Homo sapiens: one gene and its partners. The protein of the gene in region 3 purifies or fractionates together with the protein of the main gene of each other region. This does not show direct contact. Each region holds a gene or a part of one and is shown on either strand. Other genes may lie near its edges. The genes, in order: CLGN, HADHB, GLG1, CD44 and OCRL.

Evidence for each region.
Region 1: the proteins of GLG1 (region 3) and CLGN purify together in Homo sapiens (co-immunoprecipitation; one large-scale study listed by IntAct). This does not show direct contact.
Region 2: the proteins of GLG1 (region 3) and HADHB purify together in Homo sapiens (co-immunoprecipitation; one large-scale study listed by IntAct). This does not show direct contact.
Region 4: the proteins of GLG1 (region 3) and CD44 purify together in Homo sapiens (co-immunoprecipitation; one large-scale study listed by IntAct). This does not show direct contact.
Region 5: the proteins of GLG1 (region 3) and OCRL purify together in Homo sapiens (co-immunoprecipitation; one large-scale study listed by IntAct). This does not show direct contact.

Annotation. Positions count from the first base shown.
Region 1 is NC_000004.12:140,399,289-140,404,385, forward strand, and holds part of CLGN (calmegin precursor), read right to left. Parts: intron 2,779-5,097; coding exon 2,697-2,778; intron 1,262-2,696; coding exon 1,069-1,261; intron 1-1,068. UniProt on the Homo sapiens protein: Functions during spermatogenesis as a chaperone for a range of client proteins that are important for sperm adhesion onto the egg zona pellucida and for subsequent penetration of the zona pellucida.
Region 2 is NC_000002.12:26,279,439-26,282,938, forward strand, and holds part of HADHB (trifunctional enzyme subunit beta, mitochondrial isoform 1 precursor), read left to right. Parts: intron 1-555; coding exon 556-677; intron 678-3,406; coding exon 3,407-3,486; intron 3,487-3,500. UniProt on the Homo sapiens protein: Mitochondrial trifunctional enzyme catalyzes the last three of the four reactions of the mitochondrial beta-oxidation pathway.
Region 3 is NC_000016.10:74,599,712-74,604,808, reverse strand, and holds part of GLG1 (Golgi apparatus protein 1 isoform 3 precursor), read left to right. Parts: intron 1-5,097. UniProt on the Homo sapiens protein: Binds fibroblast growth factor and E-selectin (cell-adhesion lectin on endothelial cells mediating the binding of neutrophils).
Region 4 is NC_000011.10:35,205,014-35,210,110, forward strand, and holds part of CD44 (CD44 antigen isoform 1 precursor), read left to right. Parts: intron 1-771; coding exon of another isoform or gene 772-827; exon of another isoform or gene 828-1,034; intron 1,035-1,098; coding exon 1,099-1,230; intron 1,231-3,091; coding exon 3,092-3,193; intron 3,194-4,604; exon of another isoform or gene 4,605-4,951; coding exon 4,952-5,041; exon of another isoform or gene 5,042-5,097. UniProt on the Homo sapiens protein: Cell-surface receptor that plays a role in cell-cell interactions, cell adhesion and migration, helping them to sense and respond to changes in the tissue microenvironment.
Region 5 is NC_000023.11:129,555,663-129,560,759, reverse strand, and holds part of OCRL (inositol polyphosphate 5-phosphatase OCRL), read right to left. Parts: intron 3,436-5,097; coding exon 3,325-3,435; intron 2,900-3,324; coding exon 2,810-2,899; intron 2,128-2,809; coding exon 2,007-2,127; intron 1,921-2,006; coding exon 1,759-1,920; intron 211-1,758; coding exon 109-210; intron 1-108. UniProt on the Homo sapiens protein: Catalyzes the hydrolysis of the 5-position phosphate of phosphatidylinositol 4,5-bisphosphate (PtdIns(4,5)P2) and phosphatidylinositol-3,4,5-bisphosphate (PtdIns(3,4,5)P3), with the greatest catalytic activity towards PtdIns(4,5)P2.

The DNA of each region.
Region 1 (5,097 bases), on a different chromosome or scaffold from region 3:
ACCAAATAGCTCTGTTTTGGGACTCATAACGAGTCAGCTTCACTCTTTTATAGTTACAAAATACAAGCTAATCTTTTTCAGCATTTAATTTTTTTGATACCATCTTAAAGTGTTGTAAGTATAACAAAAAATTAATTTATTCTGTTCTAGTAATATTTTCTCATTATTTCTACAGTTTACTTGGTGTTCCCCCAAATGCCTAGTTTTTTCAATTATTTCATAAAGATATTTATTATATCACATCTGATATTGAAGATGAAATGGGCATTGCCCGAGCAGACAAAATGAATGTTTCTACCACTGCAGCATTTGGGGAAAAAGATTGAAATACTTTAATCTTGGGTGGAGTTGAGACGTGAGAAAGGAAGCCAATAGGGCCATTTCAAAATGTCCTATTAGGTTCCAATATGCTCTGATTTTGATAGTGGGCTGACCAGAGCTCTACAGCCATTATACTTGAGAATGGGAGAAACAACTGCTTATGATGTCCCTCACCCCCATATCTATGCAAATTCCTATTTACTTAAGTATATTAATATATGGCTGCTCAATGCTTCTCCTTTCGAAGTACATGCCACAACCAACACAAGGTAGGACATAACAATAATCACAACTGCCTACAGAATAAAGTCTAAACTTTTTAGTCTGGCATTAAGGGCCTCTTCCTTTTTATTTTTTAGTTTTCTGTTCTGGCCTCTTCCTTTTTATTTTCTAGTTTTCTGTTCTTACAGCACCACTGTCACAACGTCTAAAATGTCCTTTCACCCTACTGTCTTCAACATTCTATCTGTACTTCAAGACGAGTTCAAATATAATCTTTCCTAGCTTTGTTCCAAGTCTCTAAGCTGGAAGTAATATTGCTTGTGAACTCTTAGCTGTGCCTCATCTCTCTTTCTTATATGGTACTTTATTTTCTACCCGTGCTGTCATTATACATGTCCTATTTTCTGAAAAAGATAAGCTCCTTCAGGATGGGGTACACATTTGTTTTCTTGTAAAGCACTTGCCATGAATACATCAATAGTCAGCAAATATTTTTGAATACATGAATGAATTAAAAGGGTATACCAAGGGTATAAAGATGAGTCTTCCTGTCTGTAAAGAACTTTTTAAGGTCTACATCTGGAGGTTTGGCATGTTTCTCTTCGAAAACTCCAGTTTTGGGATGTTTATGTCTGAAGATAAAATGAAGTTTATAATCTTCTCCACATTTATCTGGTCCAAACATAATGATATAGGATGTTTTATCATAAAAGTTTTCCTTCAAAGAGAGATGAGTGTTGGCATTAGTCCAGAATCACAGACTATTTAATGCATTTCTGTATTTTATCCAATGGGTAGAGTTTACAAAAATATATTAAATGGTAATTCACCAGAGAGCTAGCTATTTAATACAAGTGACAATAAAGGACATGGGAAAATGACAAATTTTACTTCAATATAGATTTTTTTAAGTACACACTACTTCCTGACGATGTGGGACAGAAGCTGAAAATACTCTAGCAACACCATAATATGCTTTAACTCTCTATGTAAATCTATATTACTAATATTTTTATTGAGAGAATTAGGCATTAGAGGAAAGCATATTTATGGCCTTAAGACTAAAATTATCACCCATTACTATTACTTAGGAAGATACCAGAAAATGACCCTCTGAGCACAAGATGAAGAGAGATTCATTCAGACATAAAAACAGACACGAGGACATGAATTTCTCTTTATTTGGCATGGCATAGTGGTTAACAGCATGGGGCATGGAGTCAGATACTGGGGTTCAAATCCTACCACTGCCTCTTAAACTAGTTGGGTGTCACCCTGACTCAAATTTTTTAAAGCTCTCTGCACCTCCATTTCATCACCTCTGAAGTATGGAGATGATAATAGTACCTACCTTATAAGAGTTCTCTAAGGATTAAGTGAATTAATCAGATAAAGTGCTTATAGAAATACTTGGCATTAGATTTTTTTGTCATCCTACCTTCAAGTGTTCATCTAAAACAAGAGCTTCAACATATACTCCAATGGCCTCTCCTTCACTTGATCCTAATAATAATGAGTAGTACATGAAAAAGTCTCCCATCTACATTTCATAGCTTATGTACAGCTAAGTGTTCTGAAAAATATACCCCTGATGTCTCATCTATCGTATTTCTGTTATATGCAGAAAGTCTGAAACAGCCTTTTACAGGAGAAGGCTATAAGAAATATCCCCAACTTTCCAATGGTCCTAATACAACCTCTTAGAAGTATAAACCTATTTCATCATGAAAAGTTTTTAAAATTAGTTACTTTCTGTGGGTTGCTAACCCCTTTTAATTTGGTTCTTCGGCCATTTTGTTTCACTGCTATGCTTTGTTATGCTTCTCTAAACAAACTTAAGAGTCTTATTCTGTAAAGAAAATAACTCTAAGCTATATTTCAAAAGAAATTTATAAGTATCACGTAGTTTTTGTCCTACAGACATGGTAAACTTTTTCATGTTGTTAAAGATTATAAAATTGATGCCTTCAAGTAACACAGCTTTATATAAAACTTGAAGGCGAATTGTAAGAGCTATGTAAATTCACATTGAAAAAAGATATCTACAATTCTTTTCAATTTCAGTTGAAGACAAAATATTCAGTTTTATCATTTGTTCCTTAAAAATACTTATTAACTTTAATAAGGTTTTCTTAAATATTAAAATATCATACCAGAATCAAATCATCAGTGTCTGCTAGGAGTTTAATGTATGCACCTCCACAATCAATACCATCTTGAAAATTTACTTCATATCTGAATAAAGGGAAAAAGAACCGTACTACTGATAAATAAAATTTACTAGTTGCTCTTTAAAATATAATCTTATTATTCTCAATTCATGTAAGTATAAATTTTTTTACATTATCAGAAAACTCATATAAAGCATATCTACAACCTATAGGAAATAAGCAGAAACGCTTTTCTACTACTCTAAAACAAGACACATCATTAAAATATTAAAAATAGAATGATTACAATCAACTGCAGACAAACCAATCAATTTGTTTAAATTTTTTTCCATCAAAACTGATAAATTAAGCATAAGATACTGTAACTAAAACTACAACAGGAAATTTCAAATTCTGATAAGGTAAGCACTATACTTACACTTTATAAACTAAAAAAAAATAAAGGCCGTAAGAACCACAGCTACAGCAAGATTTCTACGAAATTGCTAATGATCTTAGATACCTAGAGTTCATTACACCTTACCATGTTAAATAAGTTGTACATTTAATTAAATAGCTCCAGCAAAGAGATTCATAATCTCAGTCAATAAGCTGGATTTCAGACCTAAACAGCCAGGAGATATGGGAAATTTTCACTGTTTAGTATAACAGCTAAAAGAATGAACATGAGAGTCTCTTATGAATTTACAACACAGTGTAATTCTCAGCAAAGTTTTTTTTTCTTTATTGGTAACTTTAAAAGGAAATAGCCTTGCTATGGCAATGAGGCATAGACTTACGAGATTTTTTGTTGTTAAATTAACGAATTATATGTGACAAAAATCAACAAGGAAATGGCTGTCAAACAGTAAAAACAAAAAAGGTTATGATTTCATTAAATGAATTAAATCAAAAAGACATGAAAACTAGAGAAATAACCAGAAATAATGATCATTTTAATAAAGGACTATAGTTGTAAATGTTTCTGAAGAAATTTAGTGACAAGAAGGTAAAACATGATAGTATACAAAATTTTAACAGTTTGAACTCAATTGGTGTACATATTTTGTATTAAAAAAAAGGAAACAAAATTTTAAGTATCTCTGATTTGAAAGGGGTGATTTTCTCCTATACTTTTTACCATGCTTTATTTCTTAAGCTATCTACAACAGTGGCCACAAGCATGTACTTTAAAGTCAAAATGACCTGAGAGTTATTCTTGATTCTGCCACTTACTCTAGTGACTCCTTGGGTAACGGCAAGTCATTTAAGCTCTAAGTCTCTATTTGCTCATCTATAATATGCAGACATGGCCCATACTTACACCTCAAAGGATTGTTATGATGATTAAAGGATATCATGCCCAATGAGGGGCAAATACATGCTCAAAATGCTTCTATGATAATCAGAAGGAAGGTATTCTTTCGTTCTTTTTCATTTTTTAAATAGAGGACAGTTTGTTTTCCTCAAAGTCTTATCTTTATTTTAAGCAATAGCTGACAAAATTTTGTTTTTCATGGAATTTAAGTATTTGAAGACTATAAGTAGAACACGTGGTGCATGATATGACTTAAAGGTCACTGTTTTTAGAAAAAAAATTAAAAAGATTTTGCTTTATAATAGATTATCTCAGGACAGAGCATTCTGTAAAAAGGTAAGAATTGGAAAAAACAATTTTGTACAGTGGCTGCATAAATGTGAACACAGTTTCATTGTTCCATTATGCCTAGATTCAATCACCTTGTCCATTTCTTATACTGCAAACTTTTAGAGTTTTCAAATAATTAACTTTTACCTAGTATAAATGATTCACAATGGATTAGAGGATCAACAAAATGTTTATCATACAGCTTGACTACTGCTAAACTTCCAGTCATAGGAAAACCAAGGACATATGCAGAGTATATGGTAACCTTAATTTCTTTAGAGTATCATTTCTCAAATTGTTCCATGAAATAGCAATTACTGTTAGGTGGGAAAATAAACTTATGTGATCAAATGTGTTTGGGAAACACAGTAGTAATGCTGAAAACAGGTTTTCATATGTAGAACTTCTCAGTCTTTAATGAGCTAACATACTTCCTTTTTTAATTTTATTTTTATTTATTTATTTATTTTTTTTTTGAGACAGTCTCACTCTGTTGCCCAGTTGCCCAGGCTGGAGTGCAGTGGCATGATCTCGGCTCACTGCAAGCCCTGCCTCCCGGGTTCACGCCATTCTCCTGCCTCAGCCTCCCGAGTAGCTGGGGCTACAGGCGCCTGCCACCACACCCGGCTAATTTTTTGTATTTTTAGTAGAGACAGGGTTTCACCATGTTAGACAGGATGGTCTTGATCTCCTGACCTCGTGATCCACCCACCTTGGCCTCCCAAAGTGCTGGGATTACAGGTGTGAAGCACTGCG
Region 2 (3,500 bases), on a different chromosome or scaffold from region 3:
CTTAAATATGGATGCAAATTTTGATTTATGTTGTAACAATAGGTTAACATTTTTTAATGTTTCTATAAGAGTGTCCTTTTAAGATCTGAGCACTAATCTCAGCACTTTGGGAGGCTGAGGCAGGAGGATCGCTTGAGGCCAGGAGTTCAAGACCAGCCTGGTCAACAGCGTGAGACTTCATCTCTAATTAAAAAAAAAAAAAAGAAAAACAGAGTCTCCTTTTAGATCTTGCTGATATATTTTAGTTCTTACATACATGCCTGTTTTTAAAATTCCTGAATCGTCTGACTTCTGTATAGAATAGCCAACTGTGAATGAATGTCTTAAGAAAATAGGGTGTCCTATTTTTAGTAAAGCATTTAGATGATTTCCCAATTGTCTTTTAAGACTTTAGTTTAAAATTTGATAATATGATAATTATAAAACACTTTCCTTCTAGTGAATAGGTAAGGTTTATATTTCATTTGTTTTTGTAATTTTTAAAGCATATTTCTGTGGAGAAGATATATAAGGCTTGTGGTTCCATAGAGTTAAAAAAATTCATTTTTTTAATAGGAAAAGATACAGTTACCAAAGATAATGGCATCCGTCCTTCCTCACTGGAGCAGATGGCCAAACTAAAACCTGCATTCATCAAGCCCTACGGCACAGTGACAGCTGCAAATTCTTCTTTCTTGGTAACTGTCAATGTTATTTGTATTTAGTAGTGACTTTTCTATTTCTGTACTCTCTGTAGAAAAGCCTAATATAACTTTTTGTGTGTGTTATGAATAGAGGGTTAAAAATATAGTTATTCATTTTAATGTGAAAGTGGAGTCATTAAAAAAAAAATAGAATCACGGTTTTAAGGCCCGAGAAGTCACCTAATCCAGCCACCATTCTGCCACAAAAGCTCTTCCTTTCAGGCACTTAACCAGTCAAAAACTTCTATTGCTTATGGTGGGCCCTGGAAATGAAAAGAATAGACAATTGCAATATAGTGAGATGCTGTGATGGCTGTAAGGCTTAGGTCGAACCCCTGACCCAGATGGGGGGACAGTCAGAGAGTCTTCTTGGAAGAGGTAACACTTGAGCAGCAAATCTTGAAGGAAGAGTAAAAGCCAACTCAGGAAGGATTTTAAAAGGCATTTCAGGCCGGGTGCGGTGGCTCACGCCTGTAATCCCAGCACTTTGGGAGGTTGAGGCAGGCAGATCACCTGAGGTCAGGAGTTCGAGACCAGCCTGAGCAACATGGAGAAACCCCGTCTCTACTAAAAATACAAAATTAGCCAGATGTGGTGGCACATGCCTGTTAATCCCGGCTACTCGGGAGGCTGAGGCAAGAGAATTGCTTGAACCCTGGAGGCGTGGAGGTTGCGGTGAGCCAAGATCGCACCATTGCACTCCAGCCTGCACAAGAGCGAAACTCCCATCTCAAAAAAAAAAAAAAAAAAAAAAAAAAAAGGCATTTTGGACAAAGGGAATAGCAAATGCAAAATCAAGGAAGTATGAGAGCAAGGGGTTCTTTGGGGAAAAGTTAGGTTGGAGCATAAGGTATGAACTGGGAAGTCGCAGAAGACAAGGAAAAGCAGGCAGAAAGAGTAACAGGATACCTCTTCCAGCCCTGATTGTTAGAAAACTGCTTTACACTGACCCCAATATTATTTTCCTGTAAGCATCATGGAACAAATCTACCACTGTTTGTTTTGTGTTTTTTTTTTAACTTATCAACATGTAGCTTCATATCCTTCCATGCTTTTCTGACTCCTCAATTAAACATCTTTATTGATTCTGCTGCTGCTTGTAAGATGTGATTTCTCTTCTCTTACCACCTTGGGTATAGTCTTCTGGATATAGGCCATCTGGTCAGAGTTTCTCTTACAATGTAACTCTCCTACCTGGCCATAAAGTCTTGAAAACATACGCAGATGTTTGACATATTTGCCCATGGTAAATGACTAATTAATGCCTGCTCTTGATAGGCTAGGGGAGTGGAATCTGGAGTAGTTCCAACAGGATGGAACACCACCCTGTTAAGCCCAGGTGGTGAAGAGCTGGTTAGGTTGGTCATTTGCAAAACCGAATTGGATGATAGAGCCATGTGGCATGGACTACACTTGCCAGATCTGAATCCTTTTGATTATTTCCAGGGTATGCTAAAGGTCCAGGTTTATTTAGTGAGAATCAGAGACACAAATCATCAGAGGTGACACATCACAATACATGGATTTTGGGGACTGCATTAGTGCCCCACATTCATTGCAATTTTGCACAATGGCACATTGAACCTGTTATTAATGTAATGTCTGTAAACCATTTATTCCATATGGTCACCTATGTCTCCAGACTTTATGGACACCCTATTGGTGGCTACACAGTCTCTTCAGGGTTGCCGAGTTATAAAAATACGACAGAATGTGGTAGAACTTATTTTGATTTTACAAATTATGAAGAATAGTTTCCTTTTCTTTGGAATTCTGAAGTTTTTGGGGGAGCTTTTCTTCTTTGAAGTATGGTAAAGGACGTTTTTTCAGTAGTACTTCTTTGTCCTCCAGCTTCTCGGTTGTCATTTGGGAAGAAATGTATGGGGTGTATCCAAAGAGGGAAGATTGTGGTTCTAATGTCCTCAGCTGGTTCTCCCATTGGTTTGCTCGTTACAGAATATATAAGTAGAATAAAATGACCTGTAAGCCACGGGCAGAAAGCAGCTGAGAGCCCAGAAAATGTAAAAATAAATAAATAAGAGATATGTTTATTTTGGTTCATATTTTGTGCCACAAGCTAAAAACTTTGGCTTAAATAAGTGTTTAGTGTTTATTATGAGCAGTTCTTTCTTTTTTTTTTTTTTTTTTTTTGAGACAGAGTCTGGCTTTGTCACCCAGGCTGGAATGCAGTGGCACGATCTCAGCTCACTGCAACCTCCGCCTCCCAGGTTCAAGCAATTCTCCTGCCTCAGCCTCAGCCTCCCAAGTAGCTGGGACTACAGGTGTGTGCCACCACACCTGGCTAAGTTTTTCTATTTTTAGTAGAGATGGGGTTTCACCGCGTTAGCCAGGATGGTCTCAATCACCTGCCTCATGATCTGCCCGCCTCAGCCTCCCAAAGTGCTGGGATTACAGGCATACAGGCATGAGCCACCACGCTTGGCCATGAGCATTTATTTCTAAAGTTACCTCTTCTGTTGATTCATTTTGATTATTATGATACTTTTGAACAGCCTTCTCTACCCTCATCCTCCAAAAATGAGTCAGCGTGTGTATGTTTGAATTATGATTTAATGATGGATACAGTGAAGTAAGTGTTGTTATATAGAATCACTGTATAAGTCTAATGAGTTAATAGATTCAGGTACAGATATATAAGATGGCTGGAGAAAGACCTCCAGACAGGCTGAAGAATTTTAACATTGTGCTGGTTAACATTTCAGACTGATGGTGCATCTGCAATGTTAATCATGGCGGAGGAAAAGGCTCTGGCCATGGGTTATAAGCCGAAGGCATATTTGAGGTAAAGTAAATGTT
Region 3 (5,097 bases):
AAAGTGCTGAGATTAGTGGTGTGAGCCACCACCCCCACCCTATTTTCTTTTTCTTTAAAGACAGCGAAAGGAAATTTCATTCTGCTTAGTCTGGGAGTTAATTAAATCTGATCTATGTGTTTGAAAGAGCATAACTTAAAGAAGTAAACTAGTTAGGCACATTTGAAGAAACATGTATAGAATATGTTTTGTATTTGCTGTTCAGTAAGTAGAACTATTTGATAGTGAAATAGATATATGTACTTTTCTGTCCCTTTGCATGCAAATGCAGGGAACATTTTCCTATCCGTACCCATTATTGGAATTATGAAAAGGCAGAGCATATGAGTACAGTTGTTCCTTGGTATCACTGGAGGATGGTTCCAGGCCTCCTGCAGATATTGAAATCCAAGGACGCTCAAGTACCTTATACCGTATAAAATGGTGTCGTATTTCCATATCATCTGTGCACACCCTTCCGAATTCTTGTCTTCTCTAAAATACTTGTGATACCTAGTACAGTGCCTACATATCAGTTCATTCATGTGGATTCACTGTAGTACTTGGCATATGTCAAACTTAACTTTTGCTTTTTGGAACCTTATGGAACTTTTCTTTCTGAAAAAAAATTTTTTATTATGGAGACAGGGTCTCGCTCTGTCATCCAGGCTGGAGTGCAGTGGTGCAGTCATAGCTCACTGCAGCCTCAGTCTTCTGGGTTTGAGAGTTCACTGAAGCCTCCACATTCCGGGTTCAAGTGATCTTCCCAGCTGGGCTTTCCAAAGTGCTGGGATTAGAGTTGTGAGCCACTGTGCCTGGCCTTGGGATTCTTTTTTTTTTTTTTTAACGCTCTCGGATGAGTCATGCTTTTAAAAAGGCCAAGTATATCATGGGTCCACTATGAAATAATAGATGTAATAGCCAGTAATGGTGTGTTAGTAGTCCTAGTTGTGTGTGTATAATTATTAGTAGTTCAAGTTATTTAAATAAAAACAAAAAATTAGAAAGTGTAAGGCAGAAAAGAAAAAATATTCCCTGGGCTGTTCTAGTAGGTGGAGTAATAATACCAAAGAAAGAGAAGATACTGTTGCTTAGTATGTGATAAGGAAGGCATGCTTGATGTTGTCAGTCATTTTAAAATACTTTACTTATTCTTGGTTGAAATGGCCAGTAGCACTTTTTTTTTTTCCACTAGTGTCTTGTATTTCGAAGTTTCAGATGGAGACCTTGGTTCCTTAGAAGTTTGTGGTGTTCAGCCGGGCGCAGTGGCTCACACTTGAAATCCTAGCCCTTTGGGAGGCTGAGGCAGGAGGATTGCTTGAGCTAGGAGTTCAGTACCAGCCTGGCAACATAGTGAGACACCGTCTCTAATAAAAAGTTTGTGATGTTCATAGATTAGATTTTCTTTTTTTTTTTTTTTTGAGACGGAGTCTTATTCTGTTGCCAGGCTGGAGTGCAGTGGTGTGATCTCGGCTCACTGCAACCTCTGACTCCCTGGTTCAAGCAGTTCTTCTGCCTCAGCGTCCCAAGTAGCTGGGATTACAGGCACGCACCACCTCGCCCAGCTAATTTTTGTATTTTTAGTAGAGACAGAGTTTCACCATGTTGGCCAGGATAGTCTTGATCTCCTGACCTCATGATCTGCCCACCTTGGTCTCCCAAAGTGCTGGGATTACAGTCATGAGCTATTGCGCCTGGCTGCTGCTGCTGCTGCTGCTGTTGTTGTTGTTGTTGTTGTTTGAGACGAAGTCTTGCCCTGTTGCTCAGGCTGGAGTGCAGTGGCACAATCTTGGCTCACTGCAACCTCTGCCTTCTGGGTTCAAGTGATTCTCCTGTCTCAGCCTCTTCATCACCTTGGCCAGGCTGGTCTTGAACTCCTCACCTTAGGTGATCTGCCTGCGTCGGCCTCCCAAACTGCTGGATTACAGGCATGAGCCATTGTGCGTGCCCCATAGATTTTCTTACACAGAAGTAGAGAGAATAGGGTAATGAGTCCCTGGGTATACATCACCCAGCTTCAACTGTTCCCACCCTTTTTTTTTTTTGAGAGACAGAGTCTCACTCTGTCACCCAGGCTGGAGTGCAGGGGCACGATCTTGGCTCACTGCAACCTCAGCCTCCCGAGTTCAAGCGATTTTCCTGCTTCAGCCTCCCAAGTAGCTGGGACTACAGGCATCCGCCACCACACCCGGCTAATTTTTGTATTTTTTAGTAGAGACAGGGTTTCACTATATTGGCCAGGCTAGTCTCGAACTCCTGACCTCGTGATCTGCCCGCCTCGGCCTCCCAAAGTGCTGGGATTACAGGCGTGAGTCACCGCGCCCAGCCCCGCCCTTTTATTTTTAGGGCACAGGGTTGGGAGGCTGGCATATTTAAAAGCAAATCCCAGATACTGTCATTTCAAATACTTCAAGCATGTCTGTGATAAATACTTTTTAAAAACTAGAAGGTTTTTTTTGTTTGTTTTTGTATTTAAATGTATAATCTTTCTTTTGCAAGTAATTCTGACACTAAAAAGAAAAACATAAAAAAATTCTTTCTTGCCACCTTTTCTTGATATATCAGTCTCAGATTATAAATTTGTAGCCATGCTCTAAGCTTTGCACAGAGTGAATGCTTTGTAAATATTTAAATAAACTAATTTAGGTATTGAACAGGAATTAACATTTCAGTGTTGCAAACCATAAACCCCCTTTTAGACTCATAGGTAAATATTTTTATACTCTGCTTTTAACCTTTCACTTAACTGTATACTTGAGATAGTGGACTACACCATCTCTATTGTCTCACTGTTGATAATGACTATCATTATCAATGATAATGATAATGAGGTGCTAGTGCTAGTGCTAGTGTTATTCTTTTAGCAGAGAAATAGGCTCAAAGAGCTAAAGTAAGTTGTCTGATGTTATATCCTAAGTGGTAGAGCTGGTGTTCAGGAAGTCCTTTTTGACTTAAAAGACCATACTCTTTCTAATGTACCATGGGTGGTTGTAGCTAAGGACATTAGTCTGTGACTGTTGAGAATGCCATAGGTTTATAAATGTATGCTAAATGGGACACAAGAACAACTGAGTTGTAACAGTGCATTGAAGTATTTGTAGATTTCTCAGGCAAATGCGTTATCACCCAACGCTAATTTAATTAGTCTGAGTGCATCATAAACCGAATTTCTGCTTTATGAAAAGAGTTTCAAATCCCAACTCACCTTAAGCAGGATTTGTACTAGAACACTGGAAGCATTTAGTTGTATTTCCTTGATATTTATATTGAATCCATGGAACATCACAAAAAGTGAACTGAGACTAGAGCTGTCAGTGCCATTAACTAACAAATGACTGTAAGCATTTTCTCTCTCTGCTTCCTGATGTGTTAAATGAGTAGTTGGGGTATACTTTTTTTTTTTTTTAATTTTAAGAGAGACAAGGTCTTGCCGGGTTGCCCAGGTTGGTCTCTAACTCCTGAGCTCAACCGACCCACCCTCCTCTGCCTCCCGGATGCTGAGGTTACAGGCGGAGCCACCACACCCTGCCCCTACAGTACGGTTTCTAAGATCTCTGCTGTCTAACTTATATGAGTCGTTTCCTGTATATATTCTCTGGGTATGTATATATTGTAAAGTTTCTAGGATTATATATGTACCAGTTCCTGATTCCATATTCATTCATGGAGGGAATCAGTGACAATGAATAATTCAAACAGCAATTAATCCAAACATTGTTTGGCTTTAGGATATATTATGATTGTTTTGTTTGAGCCAATATGGAATTTCCTCCTATGCTGTCTGTCTGGTTGGAAGCAATCTAACCACATAATCAAGTCATTATTGATCTTCTATTATACACCTATCATTGTGGAAGGACACTAGTACTTTAAGACACCACCATTGCTTACAGTTGGTTTGATAAGTGAGATTGTTGTGATCGAGAAGCGATTATATAAGAGTGTTAATCACTTGATGTCATACAGATAGTAAATTATTTTAGGGCAGTGTAATAAGACAAAATTAGGATTTAGATTTGGGTGGAACACAGCTCTGCTATTCTTAGCTTGAAATTTCTGTCACTGTTTTTTTTTGTTTTTTTTTTTTTTTTTTTTTTTGAGGTGGAATCTTTCTCAGTCGCCCAGATTGGAGTGCAATGGCGTATTCTTGGCTCACTGCAACCTCTGCCTCCTGGGTTCAAGTGATTTTTCTGCCTCAGCCTCCCGAGTAGCTGGGACTGCAGACATGCGCTACCACACCCGGCTAATTTTTGTATTTTTAGTAAAACGGGGGTTTCGCCACACTGGCCAGGCTGGTCTTGAACCTCTGACCTCAAGTGATCTGCCTGTCTTGGCCTCCCAAAGTGCTAGGATTACAGGTGTAAACCAGTGCACCCGGCCTCTTTTCTTAAGCAAGGACTGTCTACTTTAGCTTTGTCCTTGTTCTTTTTTTTCTTTGAAAGTCTTACTCTATCTCCCAGGCTGGCTGGAGTGCAGTGGCATGATCATGGCTCACTGCAACCTCAAACTCCTGGGCTCAAGCTCTCCTCCCACTTCAGCCTCCCGAGTAGCTGGGACTATAGGTACACAACACCACTTAGCCTTGTTCTAAGCGGAAATATACGTGAACTCATGAATTTGATGTGGTAGGTATACTTCTCTAATATATATGAAACTAAATATATGACTATAAAATATAAGTACCAACACATACCACCTGAAATCATCTTGCATATTACCAATAGCACATGCTTCAGAAAGCACTAACACTGGATTATCTTTCTCTGTTGTTTTTTTGTTTTGTTTTGCTTTTGGTTAAGACGGAGTCTCGCACTGTCACCCAGGCTGGAGTGCAGTGGCGCGATCTCACCTCACTGCAACCTTTGTCTCCTGTATTCAAGCGATTCTCCTGGCTCCACCTCTCTAGTAGCAGGGATTACAGGCACCAGCCACCATGCCTGGCTAATTTTTTTTTTGTTTTTTTTTTGAGACAGAGTCTAGCTCTGTCACCCAGGCTGGAGTGCAGTGGCGCGATCTCGGCTCACTGCAAGCTCTACCTCCCGGGTTCACGCCATTCTCCTGCCTCAGCCTCCCGAGTAGCTGGGACTACAGGCGCCCACCACCATGCCCGGCTAATTT
Region 4 (5,097 bases), on a different chromosome or scaffold from region 3:
GCAAAGTCTGGCTGTGAGAAAGCATTTTGTCAGAACTCCAGTGTTTGAAGAAATAGAGCCAGACATTATGTGAAAAGTGACACCTGTCTGATGTCATTTGGCCTTTTGGCCATGCCTGTTCAGTAATTTGTTTTTGAGTATAAAAAAGGTATCTTCTCTATTCTTGAATTGTGAGATTGTGGAAATTGGAATCCAGTCTTATCATCATCTCTAAGTGATACCAGATAACTTGGCTTTGCAAGCTCCCATGCAGGATTCTTTTGTCTGTGTGACATAAGTATTAAAATGTGTCCTGCCTTATAAAGAATGTGAATTCCATATTCTCACTTGGTATCAGTGAGAAATATTCCCATATTTCTATTTGCAACATAGAAGATAATGCATCATGTCCTTCTGGGGCATGGCAAGTTCTAAATGAATTCCTGGCAGAGCAATGGATTCTGTGATTGTCTATGTGGTGTAGTTGTTGCTAAGAGGATGCTATTGTAATCTTTTCTACCTATACTTCTTCATTGGCTCAGAATGAAGCAAGGCATGTGCTGCTTTCTTATATGTCATTTATGCCATAAATCCCATTGTTAGAAGGTAATGCTTCTAACGGATTCCATTCATGCTTTTGAGATAAATGGCATTGACTTTCATATTGATCACATGGAAAGCTGTTACCTGATTCCTTTCCTGAGATCACTTCCAGCCTAATGTGCATTTGGCTGGAATATGGTTGTCTCAGAATAACATCATGCACTCGGGCTTTTATACTTCTGCCTTTAGGGGACTGTGGCAGCATGGCATGGGTCAAGAAGTACTTCTCCTTCATCTTCCTTTGATGTCGGTAACTCATCCTTTCTGCACTGCGGGAGTTGTTAATGCTTTTGTGTCCTCCAGTTCACATGCTGATTGCTAAGAAGAAAATGAGCATGAGTGAACCCAAAGCTGCTGAAACATTCTGCGTTTATGCAACTTCCTTGCCCTCTATACAAGGAAGATGGTTTCATTGTCTTGTCTAGAGAATAAAGTCTTTTTTAAAAATAAAATCGGTGTATCCCTGACCAAGCGTCCATTAACACTTTGACAATTGCTCAAACTGCATGGTCACAGCAGCCTCAGCTCATACCAGCCATCCAATGCAAGGAAGGACAACACCAAGCCCAGAGGACAGTTCCTGGACTGATTTCTTCAACCCAATCTCACACCCCATGGGACGAGGTCATCAAGCAGGAAGAAGGATGGGTAATAGCCTCTGAGATTTTTATATATTATGTTTTTTGAAATCCACTGAGTGACTGCTGACTATTTTTCTAGAAATATGCCCTTGGTTTTAGACCAAACTACTTTCCTGAAGGACCTGAGGTTCTTCAAAAATTAGTTTTCTTGGTAGGAGTGATACTCATATTCACCTGAATATGAAGTTCTGAGCTGAAAGTAAGGAATTTAGCAGGAGGGTTGGCAAAAGAAAAAACTTATTGTCAAAATATATCTGTGTGAGGCAGTAAGTAATAGATATGAAATGAATGTTGCCAACAATAAACGCTAAAGAAATTCTGAGAACCCCTCCCTGCCCACCACAGCATCACAGAAAGGTGAATTGGACTTGGTTTATGAAAAATAAAAAAACCCTGGATAGTCAGAGAAAGGAAGTGGGTGGTGGGGGTTGGTGGGGGGGGCAGTTTTCCTAAGAAGGAGACTCCTGTAAGGAGAAACGTGAAGGAAGAAAAGCCAAGGAATGAATATGTCAGTGAGTGGATCCATTTTTCACAAGGGAAGATGTGTTTGAATGGCTAGGCAGGGGCCATTATGTTGAGTGACTGAAGTACCACAGGCAGACCCAGCACACATGAGTTTGCACATGGCAGCTGGAGCTCTGAGGACACCCATGGGGGAAAACCAAGCCAGGCAAAGATCTTCAGAATCAATATTAATTCTATGTACTGATGAAGAGAAAGAGATTCCATTAAATTAATGAACATGTCAAGGACAATACAATTGGCTTCAACTACACAATGGTATGATGACTCTTGAAGGACTCTACTTATAAGAGGGAAGATGAACAAGAGTCTAGAGCCCATCATCAAGTGGGACTTTTTCTGGGAGAATGTCCATTTGTGGTTTTGATTCAGGTTAGCACTTGCTCTTGTTTGAAATCTGGGATAACAGGGTCACCACATTTTTGTCCTACAAAGATCTTTAATATTTTAGTGTTGAATATTTAGTGTTGAATCTTGAATATTTAGTGTTGAAAGGCTGCAGTGCAGACCTGGGTACCCAGTATTCTGGTGCTTCACTGGGACTGATTAAATCTCCCCCAGAGGCAGTGATGTGGATAGACTTTGACTGAATTGACAGCCAGAAATATCGATGGGGTTTATGAATTGTTTGGCCTCTGTTTCACTCAAGACTTCTTATTTCAGCAGAGTAGATCTGTGATAACTGTTAAAAACAACATTTACAAGTATTTCAGTGAAATTTCTGCACTACTCAACATTGTACATGTTAAATTTTAAAGACCGCTTATACTTGGGTTTTTGGGAAGAATAATTCAATGACGTCCACTGCTTCTTATTTCTTGCCCCTGTATACTTTCTGTAACTCCACCTAGGTGGTCTTGGATGACGATTCTGTTTATTTGCATATTCACTTTGTGAAGAAAAAAAGACTAAAGGGGGGAAGAGGGCTATTTTTAAAAGTCCCTTTGGTTGGTAAGGGGGAGGGGATAAAATGGTGCCTGAGCCAGCACACTTTGTCTTTTCTCCATGTGTCAGATTGCATGTTTCTATAAAAAAGGCAATGTTTCTGTCTCTCTGCAAGATTTGGGTGTTCCATCATGCACTCATGTGGAGTCCTTCCAGACTCAGCAAAAACAAACACACAGCATAGCTTTCATATAACTCGGCCCTTCAAGGAAAGCCAGTTACTTGTTGTGGTGCTCTTTGATGAAACAATAATCTATCTCAGTTCGGGAGATATAGTCAGTATGTGCTTTCTTTCCTCTTGGCCAGATGTGAATATTTAAAAAAATCAGCTGTAGACCATAAGCCACCTTCAGGTAGTGGTTTGGGAAATCAAGCAATAACACTAATATTGATTCCTTCAGATATGGACTCCAGTCATAGTATAACGCTTCAGCCTACTGCAAATCCAAACACAGGTTTGGTGGAAGATTTGGACAGGACAGGACCTCTTTCAATGACAACGCGTAAGAATAACGATGCTCAGCCACTTTATTGACTTGTATTCCTGCTTCATCTCTTACTCGCTATTGGCCAAGATGCAGAGCTTTGGTGGTGGAATGGTGCTATGTGGCTTACTTCAGCCCAGAGTGTGAAACTGTCTTCATTGTCTGTATTTCTTGTGGAGGTCTCTCAACCTGATTTTCCCTTCATTTCTTTGTGCCTTCCAGATTTAATGACTTTGTGTTTTAAGAAAAAGTAGGACTCTATTCAACTCCATTTTCATTCTCTAAGTAGTTATGTCAGTGAAACACATGCCCACTTCCAGGATAGTGATTTCTCTATGTTTTAACTGACCATTTCCTTTCAATGTCCATCTTTCCTCCAGCCAGTGCAGAAGAGGGGTAGGATTGCTTGCATGGTTGTAAAAAGACATTTTTGGGGCCAGATAATCCTAGAGATCACATCAGTTCTCAGAGGAGAGGCAAGGCATGTTATTGACAATCAACAAAGGTGGCGGGATCCCTGGAACAACAACAACAACAAAACATTGCTAGTATCTCTTTCTATCACTAAGAAATGTTCAAATTCTAGTAGCCTTAATTTCTACTCTATGTGCAGGGATGTCCTAGAGATCAGCCTAAAGTCGTTCATAATTTCTTTGAGGAATACAAAAGAAATCTAGAATTAAGAAGGTCCCATTTTACTGCTTGCCACACATAATGGGCAGAGTCCTTCATATGAGCCCTTTAGGCAAAGGAAAAAAATCAGCAAGCATGTATTGATGGTCAGCAATGTAAATAGCACAGCGTTAAGCATCAAAGGAGATGCAAATAAGCCTATGAATGGTCCTTGCCAAAGAAGGACTTATATTTCCGTTTTATGTCACTGTTGGCTTTTGTTCTGACATTGGGTTTGGGATTTAGTGACTGTCTTTCTCCTGGTTGTAATATTTATTCGGTGGTGGGCATGGCTTATGGGTGTGCTTTATGAAGTTTTTGCACCTGCAACTCAGGTCAGTACCTTTCTTAAAAGAACACAAAAGAAATAAACTTGAAACAGTCCAAGTGATTTTAGATATGGGCAATGGGTCAACCTCCAGTTGATATATGTCACTGAGGGCCCTGTGTTTGCCCAGGCAAGCGTTTCCTTGGTGCAGTGATGAAAATCCCAATGCACAGGTGAAATTAAGAAATAACTTAATAATGGAGTAAAATGGTAACTTTAATTTAATGACCTTTACAAGGTAGCTAAGTATTTCCTTGTATAAATTTGATCTGTGTTACTTGAGTAGGCTATTCTAGATAGGCTTCTTTTTCTTTTGTGGTTACAACTAGACTACAGGCTATCATAGTGTTCATTTTCCCTGCCGTCACATTTCTTGACACACAGTTAGGTGCTTTTGGTTACTGATAGGAGCATTGGGATTCAAATATTCTTTTTTCCATGTCTCTGTGTTCTCTGGTTTTCTGGAGTGACTGGGAGCAATGCTGCAATTGAGCCTGGACAATCCAGGATAGGCAAAGTTTTGGCTCAGTCTTCACCTTGCCACTTTACCTTTGATGATTATACTGAGAAATAAAGGGTCTTCAGAACCAAATAGGGGCAAAATAGAATTCTTCTGTATATTTCTATCAATCAGAGGAGAATTGTGTGCACAAACCTTGGTCTTCCTATGCACCTATCCATCTGACTCTACTCTAGCTAGATTTTCCTTGCTAGCAGATAACAGGATTTGTACCGTAGCTTCAAATTAACACTGGATTCATTCCTCATTGAAACAGAGCAGAGTAATTCTCAGAGCTTCTCTACATCACATGAAGGCTTGGAAGAAGATAAAGACCATCCAACAACTTCTACTCTGACATCAAGCAGTAAGGATTATAAAACCTAGTTGGCTTCAGCTATTGATAAGAATCAATCAATTATG
Region 5 (5,097 bases), on a different chromosome or scaffold from region 3:
TATAGTCTACAGTAGGTTTTACCAACAGTCTTTTTTAAAAAAGGCAAAACATCATGTAAATGAACACCAAACATATAGCCAAAAGGAAATTCCAGAAGTGTTCTTTACCCAATGCAGTAGATATCAGGAGGATTGGGATCACAGTTCAGCCAAGGTTCTAACCCGCTATCTGGAGACTGGCCATTCACATTCCAAGTTCCAACAAAAAATCTAATACATAATACGAAAAGATAATTTGAAAACAAAGATCAAGTATAAACCAACAGAAGTTCTTTCTTTTCGCTTCCATACAAAGGTATGTTCACAATATGCTAACATAATTCCTCAAAATGTTTTGCCACATATGTAAGAAAGATCTTTTGCATCTAGAACACAAAGGCAGTGGGCTTATTTTCTCTAAATTTTACATTAAGTAAAACTACAGAAGGAAACCAAGTCTTTATTTTTAAAAAATGCAAAGGTAATTGCTATACCACATTTCCTTTCAATTAAGCTCCATCCAAACTCATACTTGATAGGAGAGCTTATGGATGGGAAAGAGGTATCTTCATGCTGTAAGCTAGTCAAATATGGATAAATGTTCTATAAGGGGCTATAGTTGACTCCAGGAACTCACTTCCTGAAGGATTACAAGGACATCTGTGTAGGAAATTCTGATGAGGCAGACATAGTATTAAGGGGGAAAGCAGAAGGGAAAACTCATGACTGTCTTAACTGTTTACACACAAATATAAGCATAGTGGGGGATATGAGGAACTGCAAGTTTTAGCATAGGGATATAGTTATGACTGAATTAGAATAAATGAGGTATGACAGGATAGCAGATGGGACTAGAATCTTGGACTAGAAGGGTACATTCTGCTCATGAATAACAAAGAAATGTGGTGTTGCTTCATGCATTGGCGATACATGCCACATGGTACCTCACATGCAGCATACACACACAAGTCCAGAAAAAAGATGAAATAAAAAATAATACAGATAAAAGAACCCAAGATAGACCTCCCAATCAAGAGGACTGGGTGAAACTTTCTTTATTTACCAAAGTAAGTAAGTTAAGAGCTAGTGGTAATGATGGACTTTAATTTTCTAATATTGGCTGAAAAAAAAAAACTTAACAGGCCAGATATATAAACACGCTTGCTTATGGAATGTGCTAGGGGAAAATTCTCTAGTACATGTGACCTTGATTTGGTTCTCTAGGACTCAGTAGAGACATTAGTAGACATGGCATTATTAGTAGTTAGAAAATCCAAGGGAAGGCCAAGCACGGTGGCTCAAGCCTGTAATCCTAACACTTTGTGAGGCCAAGGCGGGTGGATTGCCTGAGCTCAGGAATTTGAGACCAGCCTGGGCAACCTGGTGAAACCCAGTCTCTATAAAAAACACAAATATTAGCTGGATGTGGTGGTGTGCACCTGTAGTTCCACCTACTTGCAGGGCTGGCGTGGGAGGATTGCTTACGACTGAGAGGTTGAGGCTACAGTAAGCCATGATCTATCTGCTCTCCAGCCTGGGTGACAAAGAGAGACCCTGACCCACACACACAAAAAAAGAAAATCCAAGGGAAACTGTAGCATCTGCATTATTTCTGATATGCATGTTATTGGCCAGCATAGAGACAGGAGCTTGAAACAGGCAACCATTCCTTTTTATCATATTTTGATTCTTAATTAGGCTAATGTCTTAAATATCAACAGGCCACTGTCTGTTATATATACTAACTTTTTAGACTCAGGAAGCAAAAGAGACACTAACCTGAAAGTCTGAATGTTGACATATTCTTTCTCTCGCTTTGCCAGGATATGTTTGATGAGACCCTCCCGCTGCCCAGATTGGGTATTTGGTACAAAGAGCTTCCGCATGGTGTTGGTCACTTTGGGCTGCTCCTTGTTAGAAGCTTCTTTTTCACGTGGAAGCCTAGCAAATAAATGAGAGATTCAAAAGTAAAATTGTTTAAACTATAATTCTCCTACAAGGCAAATATGTTTTCACATGGGACTTACATTTTATTCACTGAAAAGGGTGGAGGTGGGGGTTCCCGATGAATCCCAGTAGGCTGATTTTGTGAATTTATTTTCTTGTCCAAATTCATAGAAGAAAAATTGTCTTCAAATCCAAGAAGCCCTGAAAGACACAGACCCCAAAGTCAAACGGGGAAAAAATCTAACATCCAACATATCCAGGGTAACAGGGCTTTGATTTGATCACAATTTGATCAGTGGTATTACTAAACAGAAAACTATCATAAGGGTAGAAATTACTTGGATTGGAGTTCGAAGAAGCATACCTATCCCTGAAGCACTGATATACTAACTAGAACAATAGAAGTTTATAAGAACTTGGAACAGACTAGTAATAGCTAACATTTATTGAAGACTGAGCACAATGCCTGGTTGAGAGTAAGGGACTATATCATGATCTCACTTAATCATCACAAAAACTCCAAGAAGTAAGTACTATTAAAAATCTTCCCATATTACAGAAAGGAAAAGGGAAGTTCAGAGTTGTTGAGTAACTTGATGAAGGTTGTACAACTAGTAAGTTCTTGACTTGGGATTCAAATCCAGGCTGTCTGGCTCTCGAGCTTGTACTTTCTACCACCCTGCTAAGCTGGCTCCTGAACAGCTACCATGCTACAGGAAGGATAAGGAGTGAACACTGGTCAGTGGGCCTGGACTTGATAAAACTACTCTGCAGGAGAATGTGTCTGACATCAGCTTTAATCTACATCACCATATTTGGCCTGACAAAATCTACTGACTCTGCAATGACCATAGCAACAAGGAAACCAGGAACTTTTTAGTACCTGAAAAAACAGAAGGTTTGTCCTTAGTGTCTAATTTCTGGTACCAGCTAGATGAGTCCTTTTGCTCTGGAACAAGAAGCTGTGACTGAGCTAGAGAGATAAGGTTCATGGTCAGAAACTGGGAAGTCTTTCACTGAGTAGAATTTACTATAGCCAAAAGCCATTCTTTCAACATTCCTTATATGCAGGGGCCAGCACCATTTTTGGATACAGTGGAAGAAACTAAGGAAATGAGGGCAGCTCTGGGGTCATCTAGGGGCAGAAGGAGAATTATAGTCTATGGTAAGCTGTGCTTGCCATGACACTGAATATTCTGAAAACTTGCCTAGTGTCCTTAAAGCTGGGCAGATTTTTTCCCTAACCTATCCCTGTGTTCACTCCTGAAGAAAAAAAAATCAGCTATCAGGGCTTAAAGGGTGAGGTATTTTGCCAATGGCCACTTTCCTCTGTATCAGCATGTCAGAATTCCACTCCCGTTGAAATAGAAGAAAGAAAATCGCTGAGTCTTTAGTTACCTTTCTGAGCAGCAAGGACAGCTGAGAGGAACTTCAAACAGTGTTCCTCATCAGGGATTTCAAAGCGGCGCTCTCTGATCCAGTCCCCCTGAACCCGAATTTTGCAGCCACCTAAAAAGAATTGAAATCCATACATATACTGCTATGGGATAAAATGTTTTACTGGGATCATATTCTCAACTTATCAGGTTAACAGAAGAAGGTCCAGATCACAAATATTCCAGATCTCTAATATAGGAAGCACACATACAAGATCAAGAGAGTCAGTATGACGGTGGTGGAAGGGGTGATGCAGAGAGGGAACCCTAAGGGAAGTGAGAACTCCTAAGGCTGATGAACCGTGTCCATGAGCAGCCCGATCTAAGGATATGACACATACTAAAATTATACTTTCCTGCGTTCTGATCTATCTCTCAGACATCAAAGCAGGGACCTTCAAATTCCAGCAAAAGGTAAATTCCTCAATCACCCTCCCTCCCATTCCTTAGCTGGAAATTCCTACCATTTCAAGTCCAGATCACATTGTCAGAGTATCTGAAGCATGAAGGGAATAAAATAAGTAGGATGGTTTGTCCGTAAGCACAGATTAAATTTACAAAATAACTTAAAAATAGTGATACTGGTTTGAAGTATTCTGAAAAGAAGCATCTACAACTCATTACCTCAAGTTTAAAATGTATGTCTTGAATAAACATACAAAAACAATATAATGACCTATGCTCAGAAGTGGTTTGGTTCAAGTACAGCCAATTGGAAACTAGGAGAATTAGAAGCAAAGTTAGCTAGGGCTTTAATTTATTATGTGTATAACATATTGTCTCCCCTTTTTTGATGCCCTATAGTTATCATCTATATCAACTGTTTGGATGTGGTGATCCAGGAAACCTATGTACTTGTTTCTATTCTTATTGTAACTGATTTATTACATACGTTGTTTTCTCATGCCTCTGGAAACTACAAGCTCCTTAAGGGCAAGAGGCAGGGTACGCATGCAGGGTGCACATACAGCGAACCCAGCACTTTCAGGAGTCTAGGGTGACCAACTGTCCCAGCACTGTATGGTACTCAGAGGCTTCCTAGGACTCAGGACTTCCAATGCTAAGACTGGGAAAGTCCCAGGCAAATAAGGCTTGCTGGTCACTCTACTGGTGACAGTAACATCAGACTTCACAGACAGAAGGTATTTAATGACTGATGAACTGGACTCTTTACCACGTGTAAATAACAAATACATGAGAAAATGAAATGAAAATCCTAGTTTTTATGGTGGAAATCCACTTCTGAACCTTTAGCTTTTTGTCCTCTGCATTTCTTCTTCTTTCTGTCTTTGTAAAATGAGTTACAAAAAGGAAAATAAAATAATTAATTAGAAGAAAATAGATAAAAATGGAGAAAAATGTGAAAGAAGGCACCCAAATAGACTACGGATAAGAAAATTAATGAGGGTGCCACTGTAGAGGGGAAAAAAGAGAGGGAAGGAAAAAAGTGTCAATTATAGCAGCCATGAAGATATAGGGAAAACTCCTTCAGGGCCTAACAAGTCCTTTCTTTCTCAGATTATTTATACTAAATGTGGTTTTAAAAGAGTAGTTTCTATCTGACATAAATTTAGAACAAAAACCCTTATTATCTCTCACACACACACAAACACACAATTCTTGAAAGACATATTTTAGCAAATATATAACTGACCTATTTAATGGGCCAGAAGATTCCAGAAATTGCTCACAAAATAACACTGGATGCTCCCTCACCATGTTGCTTGAGAAAGAA